2 separate regions of the Homo sapiens genome follow, and region 2 is linked to region 1. A link means that fine-mapping ties the variant in region 1 to the expression of a gene that starts in the linked region. Tissue or cell type: whole blood. Region 1 holds a variant in brackets; the other region holds the start of a gene. All regions are shown on one strand. Distances are between the middles of the regions.

Region 1 (8,000 bases):
AGAATTTCAGCTTTATATTTGTTCTAAAAAGTGTGGCAGCCAGAAGAGAAGGTTAGTTTCCAAGGAGAAACATTGAACTGGAATTAGACATTTTCAGTCTTCAAGCAGACAGAGAAAATGCTAGATACTGTGATATGCCCACAGGGACACTCATGGAACAGTGAGAGAAATACATAACATCAGGGCAAAAGCCCCTTGATCTGATTAACATAGCAGTTCTAAATCCACTGATATTTTACCAGAGACAGGCCATGACAATCAGGATCCCTTCATTCCCTAATGCTTTTAAATACTGGAAAATCAACGTCAAGGTTGTTTGCTCAGTCAGACCAACAAGACCATATGAAACAAAATATCTCACCCCTACTGCACTTCTAATATAGTGGCCACTAGCCACATGTGGTTATTTGAACTTGATTAAAATTAAACAAAATTAGAAATTCAGTACCTCAGGGACACTAGTCAGTCACATTTAAGTACCCAGAAGCCACATGTGGCTAGTGGATACCATATTGGAAAGTGCCAAACAGAACACTTCCATCATCACAGGAGTTCTATTGAACAGTGCTGCCCTAGAACCTTTCGCATTTGACTCTAGAACTCATACTCTGCTGGAAATTTATGGATAAGAAGGAATCACTAAAAAATGGTTATTAAAATGTGTTCCAACCTTCTCTGTCACCACTAACCCAGAGTTTTGCTAAAAAGGAGGAGTCCCAAGCTCTCCAGTTCTAACAAAATATCCAGGCTTATTAGGTCAGATAATATGAAATATTAATGAGCCTTTCAGGTGATTTTGATAGAAACTAGATTTGGGAGCTACTGTAAGATGGCGGTAGCATGGGGGACACAGCTTATAGTGGCACATTCAGGTGCATACAAATCATCCTGGGGCTAATTGCAGTTGCAAATCCTGATTCAGCAGGTCTGGGGTGGGGCCTGAGATTCTGCGTGTCTAACAAGCTTCCAAATGATGCTAATGCTGGTGAAGCAAGGGCTCACAGGCATTGCTGTTTATCTCTCCTAGGCTCAGTCCTGCTATTCTAAACCCACAGAGATTCCCACATGGGTCACCACTGTAGGCTATGAAGTGACTGGTATCAAAGGCAAAACATGCAACAGCTGCAGAGCCTGTTCCTCCCAGGAAGATCATGAAGAGGAAGATCATACACATTGCTGACCGTGGAAAGGAGACTTGAACTGGGCTTTCGTCTCCCTTGCTGTTGTTGCTTTGTCTTACCCTCCAAGAAAATTTCTATCTTTCATATTTCAAGTCACATTATTAATATACACACTTGAGGGACATTTCCAATTTCACCATTCCCTCTACCACTTCGTTAAAACTCTCCACTCAAGCCAGCCTTCCACCTATGCCCATAGAAAGTCAAAAAGCTCAATGAGCATTCTCAGAGATGATGAGATTGAACTGAAGTGAGAGTCAGTGAAGGTGGTAACCCCTAAAGCAAATAAAACACAAACAAAAAAGCAAAATAACATCTATAATGATGCTATGTTGAACGTGAGTATCCCATACATTCACTGGCCAATTTCTTCTTCCAATGCCTTTCTGCCTCTCAGACATTATCATAATGTTCACTCTTTATTAATAACAATCCAGAAGCCACCACTTTTGGGTGATATGATTACATTTCAACCACAAGGTTAGCTGTTATTCTATCTCAATGCAATACTGACTGTAACATTCTAAGAATCAAATTCACATTTCTAAGGCCTACATCATTAGGCACATCAGAAACCATATACTGCTCTCCCTACCTCCTACTGGCTGTTCATCTGGCAAAAGAGCAGCCATCTGGCTCAAGGTTATCTGGCTCAAGAGTTAATCAAAAAGTTCTACTTAAATCGCTGCAGGAAATCTGTTTTCTAACACATTGCTTTGTTAGATATTGTAGGGAAATAGAAATACCACATTGTTGGTGAAACTGCTTAACCTGGATATCAGCATAAATTTTTTATTGGTTCCATATCACTGCATCTTTAATTTTTAATTTAAATGCACAAAACATTTGAAAAACTCATCACATAAAAATGAAATTCAAAAAATACTTGTACATAAAATAGTCATGAAATAAATGTACCAACTGAACTTACTTTGCTTTGCAAATATTCTTGGTATTCTACGTTATATTTCTTTAAAAGGTCGTTTTTCAATTCATCTGTCCTTGGGAATGCAATCTCCTTCAGTTTCTTTTAAAAATATATATACATATTGATTAGTGGGATTTTCAATACACTCTTTCAGATCATCAGGTGAGAAAGAAAAACAGCTGGTAGGTATACTGCAAATAAAGTCATGAGTAACCAAAGATGATGGCAGAAAAATAAATCTCTTTTTTATGGGTCCAAAATATAACTTTCCAGCAGGAAAGAAACACTATTATCCCTTTTGTAAGACCTTTATTGGCCCCACTGATTGGATAAGCATTTTGTTATAGCCCAATGCTATAAAATGTAAATAGCTAGAACTTTGTGGCTACCTTTGTGGTACCCCATTTTTAGGCAGTGAGTTTGAGATCAATGACTTGTTCTATAGTACATAAATCATGTAGCATCAGAATTAGAAGGGATGTGAGAGAATATATGGTGGATAGGGATTTCCAGACATGCTAGACTGTAAAAAGAATAGCTGAGGCACTTTTTATAAAAATACAGACCCCCCCAAGCCTAATCTGGATCTACTGAATTAACACCTGTAGAGAAGGGGTCTGGGAATCTGGATCTCAAACAGCTTCCTCAGAGATCGTTAATGGCAGGAAAATCTGGGAATTCTTATATAGTCCAACTACCTCTTCTTTTTTAGAGTTGAGGATACAAAGGCCTGGAGAGACTGAAAGTCCTGTTCGGTATTATGCAACCAGCTAGCGGCCCATTTAGGACTGGAACTCAAGTCTCCTGACTCTAGCTCTTTCACCAAATTTCTATTCTCTTAATCCTTTGTCATTCATTTATGTATTTATTCATATATCTATTCAATAAGCATAAACAAGGGAAATGTATATGGTTTTGGAGAATTTTTCTCCTACAAAAAAAATAAGCATAACCCTAAGTTATAGTACATGAGTCACCGTGACAGCCTGGTACCTTTGGTTTCCAAACAGAACTCTCTGAGGTTGAATGAACAAGAGAACTGAGGGGAAATGTTACACAAAGACATGATAATAAATGATACTTCAGGTAAGTGACTGTAGACATTAAAAAAGTTGGCTGGGTGCGGTGGCTCACACCTGTAATCCTAACACTTTGGGAGGCAGAGGCAGGTGGATCACTTGAGGTCAGGAGTTCAAGACCAGCCTGGCCAACATGGTGAAACCCCATCTCTATTAAAAATACAAAAATTAGCTGGGCATGGTGGCAGGTGCCTGTAATCCCAGCTACTCAGGAAGCTGAGGCAGAGAATTGCTTGAACCCAGGAGGCGGGGGTTGCAGTGAGCCGAGATTGCGCCACTTCACTCCAGCCTAGGTGACAGAGCAAGACTCTGACTCTAAATAAATAAATAAATAAATAATGTAGATGACCATTTGACAAAATCTGCATTTTGCTTATGCATCCTCAGGTCTGAAAATACTCATAGGAAAGCCTTTATTTCATTATTTGGTAAAGTGTTTTTCAAAAATTATTTAAAATTTCATGCTA[C/T]AATTGGCTTTGTGTACATGATTTTATCTTCCTTCATATAAGACCAACACAAACTATTAAAGACAAATAAATGGGAAACATTGTAAATGTTTATTTAAAAGAATATATTCACAGCTAGACATAACCAAAATTATAGATATAGCAATTATTGGTGATAAATCATTAAAAAATTGATGATAAATTGCAACACTCTTTTTCCTTTATAGTATTTTAGTCTACCACCTCCTGCTTCCCCCACAACACTTTCTAATCTATAATTCCAGTCCTATAAGATGTAAATAGCTAGAACTTTGTGGCTGCCTTAATAACTAACACTAATTTTCAAACAGTTATTGAGTTCAGGGCTGTATAAAATAATCAAAAGCAGCCAAAATGACCATCTGAAAGAAGTTCGCAGAAATACACAACATTCTCTTAACCTCTGGGAGAGATTATTGTAAAATAATTCCTTCCTCACACTATTAGGTAACGTATTTCTTTCTTTTCCCCCAGCATCAATTAGACAAACCACACTGGCTCAGTGATGATCATTAAATGTCTAAGAAAAAATCGAAACATCATAGTTAATGGAATGAATTTCTTGCGCTCAAACTCTCAAGAGAAAGAGAAAGGGGAGGAAGGGGAAGGGTGAATCAATAATGGATACTTATGGAGCATTTGATTCCACAGTGGAGAAGAAAACCCACAATACCTTCATAATATCCTGCTTTTCAGGTACTGCACATTGCTGGTAATCTCGATGGTTAGGAAGCTTTTCTACAAATAAGCTAAGGAAGAGAAAACATGTCCTTAGCATTATGTGACAGCAAAAGTTCAATAATGCTTTCTAATAAGGGAATGAGGATCCTTTTTCAAAAATGACATGTTTAATAACTTATTCATTTACCTTCAGTCTTGCCATCTGCCTTTTCACTAAAGTCTGGCATGAGTATTATTTTGGTATTAATGGTTAAGCTCAACCAACTAAGCACCAAAGCTAACAAGATTAAGGTCAGGGTACTTTCCAAACAGTTCAAGTCACTTTGATCTTTCTCAGGTACTGCATGCTTAGCCCCAAAAGAGCACCACCTTACTTTAGCATACTGCTGGCAACAGAGAGAATCACATAAAAATATCAGAGCATGGAAAGAGTGATGTAAATCCCTTCTCACTCTTGAAAAAAACTCAAACGACCACTGATGAATCAGCAGCGCCATCGTGTATCAAAAAACTCTTAACCGAAAACTCATAACTAAGAAAAGTGACAACCAGAATCCCTAGTGAATTAGGAGTTGCTAATTAGGAATTCATTATTTTTCGTCACCGTTTGAGGAACAAGAGACAGCAGCAGTGAAAGGAAATTCCTACAGCAAACCAGGTGCATCGCTTCCAGGTAAAGTGAAGAAACTGCTACCACAAAGGCAGGGAATTCTCTTTTTTATGCACTGATGTATCCTCAGCCTGAAGAATAGCATCCAGCTCATAATAAGTGCTCAATAAATATTTGCAAAATGAATGAATAACCCTTCCTTGATAAATCATAATGAGCTGTAAATGCTATTTCTGATCAAACAATATGCCTTATACTTACTGATTCTGTAAATCAAATCATACACACATATACTCATCATTTAATTTCATCTGATCACAAGGTTATAGGTTAGACAGAAATGTTAGCATAATTCCCATTTTAAATGAGAAAATTAAGGCTTAAAGAAGCTTTAAAAGTTGTTAGCTATCTAAGCCTTTATAAATAGAATAAATTCAAAGACATTTAGAGCAGAGGGGACCTCAGAGATTTTCTCCCATAAATCTTTCATTTGTAGATGAGGAACTAAGGCCCAGGAAGAATAAGTGAATTACAAATTATCATACAACTAATAATACAAGAGAATTCAAATATTTTGATTACACAGTAATTCTGAGATATAGGGGCCTTTTCCTTTTCACCAGGCTCACAATTCCATAGGAACATATGCAAGATCAGAGCAGAAGGTGAAAAAGAAATATTATTAATTGGTAACTTATTCAGAAACAAAAATTATTGGAAAAGTTTGGCTATCAATGGTGGAGAATAACTTCTAATTTCATATTTATTACTTAACTTTCTAAAAACAAGTGATTTTCCCAGGTAGGGTGAAGGTTGCCAACCATTCTCTAAATTTTCAAGTTCAGTAACTTGAATAAAATGCAGATCTCAATTTTTGCATACCATGTAAACTGCCTTTAATTTTGCCCTCGGTAGAATCATGGAAGGCAATTTTTAAAATATTGTATCTTTCAACTTCTTAAATGTTCTCAGGCTAAGCCCCTGACTAAGCTAGTGATATTATATGTGAAATAAGCCAGGCACAGAAACACAAATACTGCATGATCTCACTTACAATGTAGAAGGAATCTAAAATAGTTGAATTCACAGGGGGGCAGAGAGTAGTCTGGTAGCTATCAGAGTTCCAGCAGTTGAGGATGGGGGTGAGATGTTGGTCAAAGGATACAAAATTTCAGTTAGACAGGAGGAATAAGTTCAGGAGGTCCAGTGTATATGATGATTATACTTAATAACAATGTATTGCATAATTATGCAGCTTGGGTCTGGCACAGTAGCTCATGCCTATAATCCCAGGACTTTGGGAGGTCAAAGCAGGAGGATCACTTGCATCCAGGAGTTGGAGATCAGCCTGGGCAACATAGTAAGATCCCATCTCTACAAAAATAAAAAATTAGCTGAGCATGGTGACACATGCCTGTAGTCCCAGCTACTCGGGAGGCTGAGGTGGGAGGATCACTTGAGCCAGGGAGGTCGAGGCTGCAGTGAGCTATGATTGTGCCACTGCACTCAGCCTGTGCAACAGGGAGACCCTGTCTCAATAAAAGGTCTGTGAGGTAATAAATATGTTAATTGTCTTGACTTGGTCATTCCACAATATAAGCATATATGTATCAAAACATGTTGCATACCACAAATACATATAATTTTTATTTGTCAACTTAAATAAAATTAATAAATAATAAGCTAGCAAAAGTAATCGGCATGTGACTTTCAATTAAAAAAAAGAAGGTTCATCTTAGAAGATATAATTATTGATGACAGGACATCCTTTCAACTAGTAAGTTACCAGATTTATAGTAAGGAAAGACGAAGTCCCATTTCTGTTAACTCTTAAACTAGGATATGTCACTAACAAATATCTGTCTAATAGGAAACATGATACTCTGACATGGCTGTTTTGATGTAGCCACTTTTACTCAACATTTTGACAGCTCTTTTGTACATAGTGTTCTTAATAGCCAAATAAAATGTTTTTTAAAAAGAAATAATAAGTGCTATATGAAACTTGAATGAGTTTCCTGAACCTATCCCTGAACCTGAATCAGATCTTTCCTGTGTCTCCCAACTTGTCCCCTAGACTCAACCCACCAAATCAAATTTTTTAAATGTTGATGGCATGTTCTAGGTGCTATAAATGGAGCTGCACTGTAGTTCCTGCTCTCATAAAGCTTCCATTTCTGTCGGGGAAAATCGCATGAAAAAATAAATTATATTTAAGAAGAGTGAAACATGTATTAAATAGATTACTATGCTGGCCTTGGAAAGGAAATCTGATAACCCTGAGCCTCCTGCCCTCCCTGACCCTAAGCCTCAGAGATGGTGTTGGGATGCCTGTGAGTACATTAGTTGGTAATTTAAAAACTTGAACATTTAATGCTCCTAGAGACTGTGCAATTGGTCTGAATATGAAAACATTACTGATACCCAAACTGCCACATCAAAATAACTATGTAAATATTTTTCCAATTTTCTCACTTCAGAGGCCTTTAAAACACTTACGTTATAAATTTATTATAAAGAACAAAGGCATTTTCCAAATTTCCTTCTTCCAAATACACAGACGCCATCCTCTCCATCTCTACTCCAGACCTAAAGTAACGTCGTGGAGTGATGTCTTCACTGATGGTGATATTACAACCAAGCTTGCTTAGGGCACGGACTCGCTCTTCTGGGCTTAGGGAAACATCTGTATGGTCAGGCATAGCAGCTAACTTTTTCTGCAAAGCAAAATTTAAATCTCTGATTAACTGTTGATTATAGTAAGAAAAGGATATGACTAATATTATGGACATATGTTCTTTATGAGGAACCTAACACCATTACCTAAGGAAATCTTTTCATAAGTTAATGATATAATCAAAGTAAAGCATTTTTGCTTAAACATGCTTTATACAACAAAAATACATGGTTTATACAACAAAAAGACAAACCTCCAAGGTAAACATACAGTTTTATTGGAGTGGGATCTCACTTTAGGTTTCAGGGTATGCAAATGTTTCAGGTCATTTTAGGTAAAATATCATTGCTCCTCATATC
Region 2 (8,111 bases), 57 kb after region 1:
GCAAGCATATAGAAATGAGTAGATCTCTTTCTCCCTCTTTAGCGTTGTAATCTCACATGGAGTGCTCCTTAGAAAATAGACCAGGTTTCAAGAAAGGGTCATATATGCAAAGCAATCTCCAAACAAGGAAGGAGCCAAGAAACCAAATAATAAGGCAGACAAAATCAGTTTTTTGATAAAGGGTAATTTATTGGGGGAACTTACAGACAGAAGTGTGGCCTGCAGTAGCAAGACAAATAGATCTCCACACCAATACACCCCAGACCCCGGGCTTATATATCATAAGGAAAGGGGATACATGCTCTATAGAGACAATTAAAGACAACCCCCCAGAACAGGCAAGAGTGCTGTGTGCATCATAACCTATATTTGTGTGATAACATCAAGTTTGCTTTGGTCTAAAGGCAGGATTTACAGTAAGTATGTGTTCTTACACTAAGGACAGTAAATAAAGTAGGAATCCGAAGGCATTTATGGGACTGGGGTTAATGAGAAGTCAACATGGTGGATTAGCATCCAAGATGAAGTTAATTTTGTCTCCACATACCAGTAGGAAAAAAAAAAAGCTAGCTTGCAGAATGCCAGGGTAGGCATTGAAGAACCAAACATAGAAAAGTGTGTTCAATGCTAGGAGATAGCTTAATAACTCATAGTTGGCAAAGTCTGTTATTTCTACCTCCTAAACTCTAGAGTTTATCCTATTCTCTCTATCCACACTGCTGCTCTTCTGCCCCAGGTAACTATTATCATGCAGCTGACCTAATGCAATAACCTCCTAACTAGTTGCTGTTTCTTTTTTCCTGCCTCAGATCCACTCTCTGTACAACAGCCAGAGTGAGCTTTATTATATAAATAAAATTCTGATTACAACACTCCTCTACTCAAATCTCTCCAATGGGAGCCAATTTTACAGTAAGTAGCTAGTCAGACATGAGCAGAGTAGGAGAGGGCTCCCCCCACCCACCAGGAATGTCAGGTGAACATCAGGTGATAGTAAGGAGGTTGTTAACCGTCTCTCTAAAATAATAGTTGAGGGCCAGGCGTGGTGGCTCATGCTTGCAATTCCAGCACTTTAGGAGGTCGAGGTGGGCAGATCACCTCAGGTCAGGAGTTTGAGACCAGCCTGGCCAACATGGTGAAACCCCGTCTCTACTAAAAATACAAAAATACAGGTGGCAGGTGTCTGTAATCCCAGCGACTCTGGAAGCTGAGGCAGGAGAATCGCTTGAACCTGGGAGGTGGAGGTTGTAATGAGCTGTGATTGTACCACTGCACTCCAGCCTGGGCAACAGAGCAAGACTCCATCTCAAAAAAAAAAAAATTATATATATATATATATATATATATATATATATAAAATAACAATTGGTCACAGCCAGTGCCAGGGAAAGGCAGTCTCCCAATAGACAGAAAAAACTTGAAACTGGTGATCAGCAGCTTCCTGATAAGATCTCAGGAGTTGGGCGAGTGGGTTCAAGCATGCACATTAAGAGGCAGAATGGCAGAGTTTAACTGGTATATTACCTTCTAGGGACATTCAGCTGGTAAGAGAAGAGTGCTTCAAGTAAGCATGCATACAACTCCAGTAAACACACTGTGCATGCTCCCCTCCCAAATCCTGGTGGGCCACTGCACATGTGGACAGCCCACCAAAGGGCAGAATCAGGGGAGAAGGAATGCAGGACCCTGGAAGTATGCCAACGTATAAAAACCCCGAGTCAAAAGTCAAACTGCACACTTGTCTTTCAAGTTGCCCACTTGGTCCTCTTCCAAATGTACTTTACTTTGTTTATTCCTGCTCTAAAGCTTTTTAATAAACTGTCGCTCCTGCTCTAAAACTTGCCTTGGTCTCTTCTTCCATCCTATGGCCCCCAGTTGAATTCTTTCTTCTGAGAAGGCAAGAATTGAGTTTGCTGCAAACCCACACAGATTCACTGCTGGCTGGTGACATATTTTGGTGCCGTGTGACTCAGATAACTTCCACTGCTAATGTCAATGTTGGACAATGTTAGATAATGTTGAAGGATTAAGATATCAGCGTAAAACTGAGTTTCTGTGGACTATACTTCTTTGTTATGCTCTACTGAACCCCTCTTGGGGGGAAGTCTTTGGGATACACCTTACAAGAGACTCATCTCTCACAGACAGTTGGCTGCTGGTCAGTGGAGGTTGGCTGCATTTACAGCCAGGATCAAAGGATGCCACTAATTTTAAGTCCCTAGTGTTTAATTCAGATTAAACACTAGGTTTATTTCTTGACAGAAGACATTTGTCTTCTTGACAGTGTTATTTCTTGACAGAAGACATTTACCTGTGAAAGCTGTTTTCTGGAACTTCTTTTCTTTACCTGTCTTTGTAATTATAGGCTCAAAATTGCCAGAGGAAGAACCCTAAACACTTAAAAATATATCTGTTTATCCAACTTCATTCTGACAATATGCCTCCGTATTCCAATTTGACACTATAGTTTACGAAGTCCTCTTCCTTCACCTTTAATTCTCCTTTTGGCTTAGACTAGAGTTTCTCTACATTAGCACTCTTCTGAGCTGGGTAATTCTTTGCTCTGAGAGGCTGTCCTGTGCACTGTAGGATGATTAGCAGCTTCCCTGGCCTCTGCTCCCCACATTAGAGTACCATGCTCCCACTCCTAGTTGTGACCACCAAAAATGTCTCCAGACATTGCCAAATGTCTTTAGTTTCCAATAAAACGACGTTCTCCATTAAGCAACATAATTTTTTAGTGTATGTATGTCCCATATGACATTTCAGAAATTTATCTGAAATTCAAATTTAACTGAACATCTTATCTTTTTCGTTGCTAAATCTGCAGTCTATCTGGGGGCGAGATAACCCCTGGTTGAGACCCAATGGCCTAGAGTTAAATCCAAGTGTTTTACAAATAACAATGAGTCAACTGCTTTTTTCATTGGTTTGTTTTTTGAGCTAACCCTACATCATTTGCAATTATAATGAGTACTGTTCCTTTAGAACCAGATGTTGTCAAGAGATGCAGAATCTAATAAAATGAGTTTTGATCCTGATTGAAAGTTAAAGAAACATTTAGAGCTCAGTCAGGGAGGAAAGAGCTTGAAGAAGAAAGCTAGCAGCAACCTTAGGAGAGAAGCAATGACAGTGAAGAGTTCTGTCCACACAAATTAGTTGAAAGAGGTTACAAAAGAGGCTACCAGAGGTTACAAAATATTGCATAACAGAGTGAAGTACCCAATGGATATACCATTAATGTTTTTCTAAGTCAATGGGAAGACACTTAAATGTCTTAAGAGTCTACAGAAATACAAAATCAAACCAAGCCAAAGAGGAAGTCAGCTGCAATTTTAGTGGGTATTGCAGACTTCCCTCTCCTCCAACGGAAGAATTAGCTAATTCTTAAACTCCAGAGAGGCTGGCCTCGATGTCAACTGCATAGTGAAACATAAAATCTTTGAAATAATTATAAAAATAGCTCAGTATATCCACCAGTGGAGTAAGAAGAATTTCCCTGAATATTTATAAGCACAGGCCTAGTATCCTGGTCACTAGTTTCTGGCCACTAAGGAGCCTCAACTGATTGGGAAAATCACATCAATTGGTTTGAGATGGTTGAACTATTTCTTCCATGATATTATTGAGCAAATAGGCTTGCTGCCCCCTGCTCACAGAAGCCAATATCTGGACACTGGGTTTTGAGGAAAGAAAAACTTTATTGCAAGACAGGTCAGCAAGGAGACAGGAGGTGGGCTCAAATCTGCCTCCCCAGTTTGGAATCTGAGAAAATGTATGGCTTAGAGGGTGAGGGAAAGGATTTAGGAATGTTGGTTTGGCAGGGACTGATTGAAGGGCTTCAAATTTGACCACTAAAGGTAAGGTATGTTGAGGCAGATTTCAGCCCTGGATCTTTTGGGCCAATGAGCCCCTAGCTTCTGAAAGAGGTCCTGCATTTAGGTTCCCGTCATGTCCTTGTCTTCTTGGTTCCCAGGGGAGGGATCATTTGTTCTAGGTTCTGTTAGAGGCAAAAACATTTTTATTGTGCATGCCTGGGCTAAATGACTTACAGTTTTTGGCTCTGTTATATCTACAGAGTAAATTGACATTTGTTATCAACAAAGTACGGCCCATTTGGGCTGGTCCCATGGTTATAATGGGTGTGTGGACGGTCGAGTGTTTCAATTCTGGGAAAGTTTGATGTGATTGTATTCAGTTCAAGGAAAATGTGTGAATGATATCATATATAGCATATAAAATGTTTACAATATTTAAGAGATTGGGCATACTAGCATGTTTGATAAATAAATTGATGATGCAATTTAAAATGCATAACAGAGTATTTGATTTTAGACTTATGATTTTTAAATTGAATATTATAAAGTAATTTGGCTAAATGTGTGAATAGTATTGGAATATTTAAAACAACTTAAGATTTATTATGTTAGTAAATTTATTAGTTTACAAAACTGCATAAATAGCTGGAAAAGCGTTACTTGTTAGGCTGAGAATTTTGAAGATTATTTTTCAAGTTCTTTGCCAGACACGTGTGGCTCTCACAAGTAAGTTTGTTGGTCTCTAGCCTTTCTCAATGGCCACTGAAAACCAGATTTTGATTACGAAATGTCTGAAATACAGTATCTTGGTTTGAACCGTGAGTCCTTCCTGCCAATGTAAGAACTTTTCTTCCTCCCTTAACTTTGCTTCCTTCTTTCCTGCATGTTACCACTGGCAGAGCAAATATGACTCAGAAACCGGCTCCTCAGGGTTGTAACATTAGATGATACAGGCTTGGGTCGTTACACATGACACCAGTGCCTTTGTTTCATTGGGCTGGGCTCTCTGGAAGGTGTGCTGCTGCCTGAGCTGCTGGAAAAGCACTGACAGGTGTTTGCTAGAAAAGCACTCCTGGAGCTTGCCACCAGCTTGGACTTCTAGGGACTTTCCTCTCAGCCAGGAAGGATTTTGATATTCATCAGAAATACCTCCAGAAGATTCAAGGAGCTGTAGAGGTGAAGTAAGCCTGTGAAGGACCAGCATGGGAATCCTATACTCTGAGGTACATCACCTTTCTGAAAGCAGAGTTCCAAAGATGTTAAAAGTTACTCATGCTTTTCAGATGCAATTTTCTATCCCTGTTAATATATTTCTGTTTTGTCTGTTCAACTCCCTGGGGGAGCATTAAGTCAGAAAAAATAAAGTCCTATGTGTTATTCTTGTTGATATTCTTAATAGTTTAAGACAAAGTATTTTGTAATTCTAAAATATTAGCTAGATCTAAGTTGAGATGAATATAATACACATTTCATAGTATCTGGATGTTTGCAAGGATAATTTGGACAAAATCGAGTTTGAGTTGTGCTTTTCTCATGACAAACACTCAGAGAAAAAGAGAAAATTGTACTCAATTGGATTTTCTAAATATCCAAAAGATTGACTGCCTCTTTTATGGAACCACATGACCAGAGTAATGCCTTTCAGCTTGGTATTTGAAGGGAGATTCACCTTTAGTAAATATTAGTAAAGACTATCACTATGAAGAAGAGGAATAATAACATATTTTGATGATTTGATTATTTTCTTTTCACATCTGATAAATACTGAGGTACTTTTACTTGTATTGGAAGTAACTTATTAGAATCAAATGGATTTTTAATGATGTTTCAAGAAAGTACAAGCAAGGAATGTTTAGACAAGAGTACAAGAGGTGTAATGATGTCATTATACATAATTTACTCTCTCTCTCCTCTGACACAATTAACTGGTTAATCTGCATTTCATTGCAGATGCTCAGGGGAACCTTCTTGGATAGTTTTGATCTAGTATTAAAGACAGTTTATTTGCAGTTATTTCTAATGCCATGTGTGTATATATCTCTCCGTGTGTGCAAATGCAGTGTTTGATTGGTTTATAACTCTAGGTATGTCTTGCTCAGTGATTTTAGCCTCATGAAGGGATCATATACATGAAAATGACAAAACATATAGTGCTTTTAAATGCTACTCTGGTAACTCTCAAACTTTAGACTGCCCAAGTGTCAGGGAGAGAAGTTTGTTTGAAATGCAGTTTCAAGGGACTCCAACCCAGAGAGTCTGTTTCACTCAGTCTATGGTAGGATACAAAAGTATACTTTTTAAAAGGAGCATCCCAGGTGGTTCTGACATAGGGGTGATCTGTTTACCACCATCCTGAGAAAGAAAGACTGCCACAGGCCAGTGCTTTCCCGTTTTTAATGTCTATACAGATCTTCTGAAGGTCTTGTTTAAATGCAGATTCTTAGTTTGTAGACCTGGGTGGGACCTAAGATTCTGCATTTTGGTTGCTTTTTCAGATTGCATGTGGGAATTATATGTGATTTGGAAAAAGGAAAAAAAAAAGCCTAGTCTCATCCTCAGGTATTCTGATGTAGAAAGTTGGAAGTAGGACCTTTCATCTATAGTTTTAAAGAGTTTGAGACTCTTTAAAATTAAATAGTAATCTCTTAAATATTTAAACATAGCCTACTCATTTGTAATATATCATTTGCTCTGTGTTTCCTAAGGATAAAGATTGTGAGCTACTCATTAAGGACAAGAAAAAAGCCTGCTGGATCCCTGGTCCTATGTTGCCTGGAAGAATCTATTCAAAAAAAAAAAAAAAACTTCCCCCAATTTGAGTGCGGGAAGCTCCTCTAGATTGGGGACATAGGGTTATCATTTTTCCTTAGAGCTTTGCAGTGCTAATAGTTATGCAATATATATTTTTAAGAAAGAAGGAGAGAATGAGGGAGGATCCCAGAGAGCTGGTCCTGAAATCTGCACTAGAGGATAAGCTTAGAGCTCAGTGAGAGGCCCTAATTTTGAATAAGTAACTCCAACTGCGTAAGATGGACTTTTAAACAAGGCTGATTCATTTAAACCCTTATCAAAGGTATTTGTTCATAATATTTACAATAGCAACAAACATGTATTTAGGGCTTCTTATAGATTAGGCCCTATTTTAAGCACTTTATATATGTATTAACTCATTTAATACAGCAATCTTGTAAGAGTCACTTTTAGTATCCTTATTTTACAAATGAAGAAACTGAGGAAAAGGTAGTCACTGGCTCATAGTTACACAGTTGAAAAGTGCTTATTGGCTGGAGATTGGTGGCTAGGATGAGTCCTGTGTTTACTCATTCAAAGAGATTCTTCTTACATCACTGCTGAACTACTAAATTTTTCTACTACTTGTTATTTCAACAGATATGTCATGCTCCATAAGAGAATTGGTCTTAACCACTCTGGTGTTCTGCCACTGTTCTAACCAGGATGGTGCCCTGTTCCCTTAGTGGAAAGAATGAGTAAACTAAATCCAGGTCCAATGAGGTACATTCTACTGCTACCTTGCAACAGAGAACTGTTGCATTGTGAAGTAGCACAAAAATCGGAAAGAAGAAAAATGCTGAGAACTTAAAAGAGTTCAGGAACTAATACTTAGGAGACTTAAAGAATCTTTTACAGACTTTTGGTCTCTTCAGTTGCAGACACAGGCCCCAAAAAGCGTTTCTTGAAAATCATATCTTAAATGATGTATTCCTTTAAACATTGGGAAGTTCTCATTATAAGGCTGTAAGTAAAAGGATGCACACACACCCACACACACACACACACACACATGCACATGCACACACACAAACTTAAAATTAATCCTTTGGCAATGGATATGTTTTTCAGAGAAGCTGATGTTACTACAGAAAAAGGAAATATAGTTCAAAAAACAGAAAGATTGTCTTGAAATATACAATGCCTAGGGAGAGCAATTTAGATCAAGCAAGTTTTATTGGAAAAGCTGGTACAGTTGAGGAGGAGAAGTCAGGGAATACAGGAATAGAGATGTGACTAATTGAATGGCCATTGGACTGAAAGTCAAGCAATCCTATATTTTAGACCTGATTGTGCCAGGAACTTCAAGGGATTTGAGAGGAAGTCATTTAACCTCTCTGAGTCACAGTTTTAATATTACAAAACAAGAGAGCTGAATGAGATCTGGTTTCACATTTAACATCGTGTCATTCTGTGATATGAGAAAGGCTAGGCAGAGACAATGGGGAAAAAATTGCATTCTCACAATCTTCCCAGCTCTCTCCATCTACCTTGTTTATGTAT

What was found. PIP is the estimated chance that this variant, and not a neighbour inherited with it, causes the effect.
Region 2: ANKRD22 starts here. The variant in region 1 is fine-mapped to the expression of ANKRD22 in whole blood (INTERVAL, PIP above 0.99).

Annotation. Positions count from the first base shown.
Region 1 is chr10:88,905,124-88,913,123 of GRCh38, reverse strand. It overlaps STAMBPL1 (STAM binding protein like 1), which reads right to left. Exons shown (of 11, transcript NM_020799.4): 3 at 7,464-7,681; 4 at 4,347-4,422; 5 at 2,113-2,208; 6 at 1-23. Among named protein-coding and RNA genes, the nearest start is that of ACTA2-AS1, 24 kb to the left of the region's middle. The variant C/T (reference allele first, on the strand shown) is at 3,656.
Region 2 is chr10:88,848,517-88,856,627 of GRCh38, reverse strand. ANKRD22 (ankyrin repeat domain 22) reads left to right here and starts at 4,784. Exons shown (of 6, transcript NM_144590.3): 1 at 4,784-5,041. The coding sequence starts at 5,021.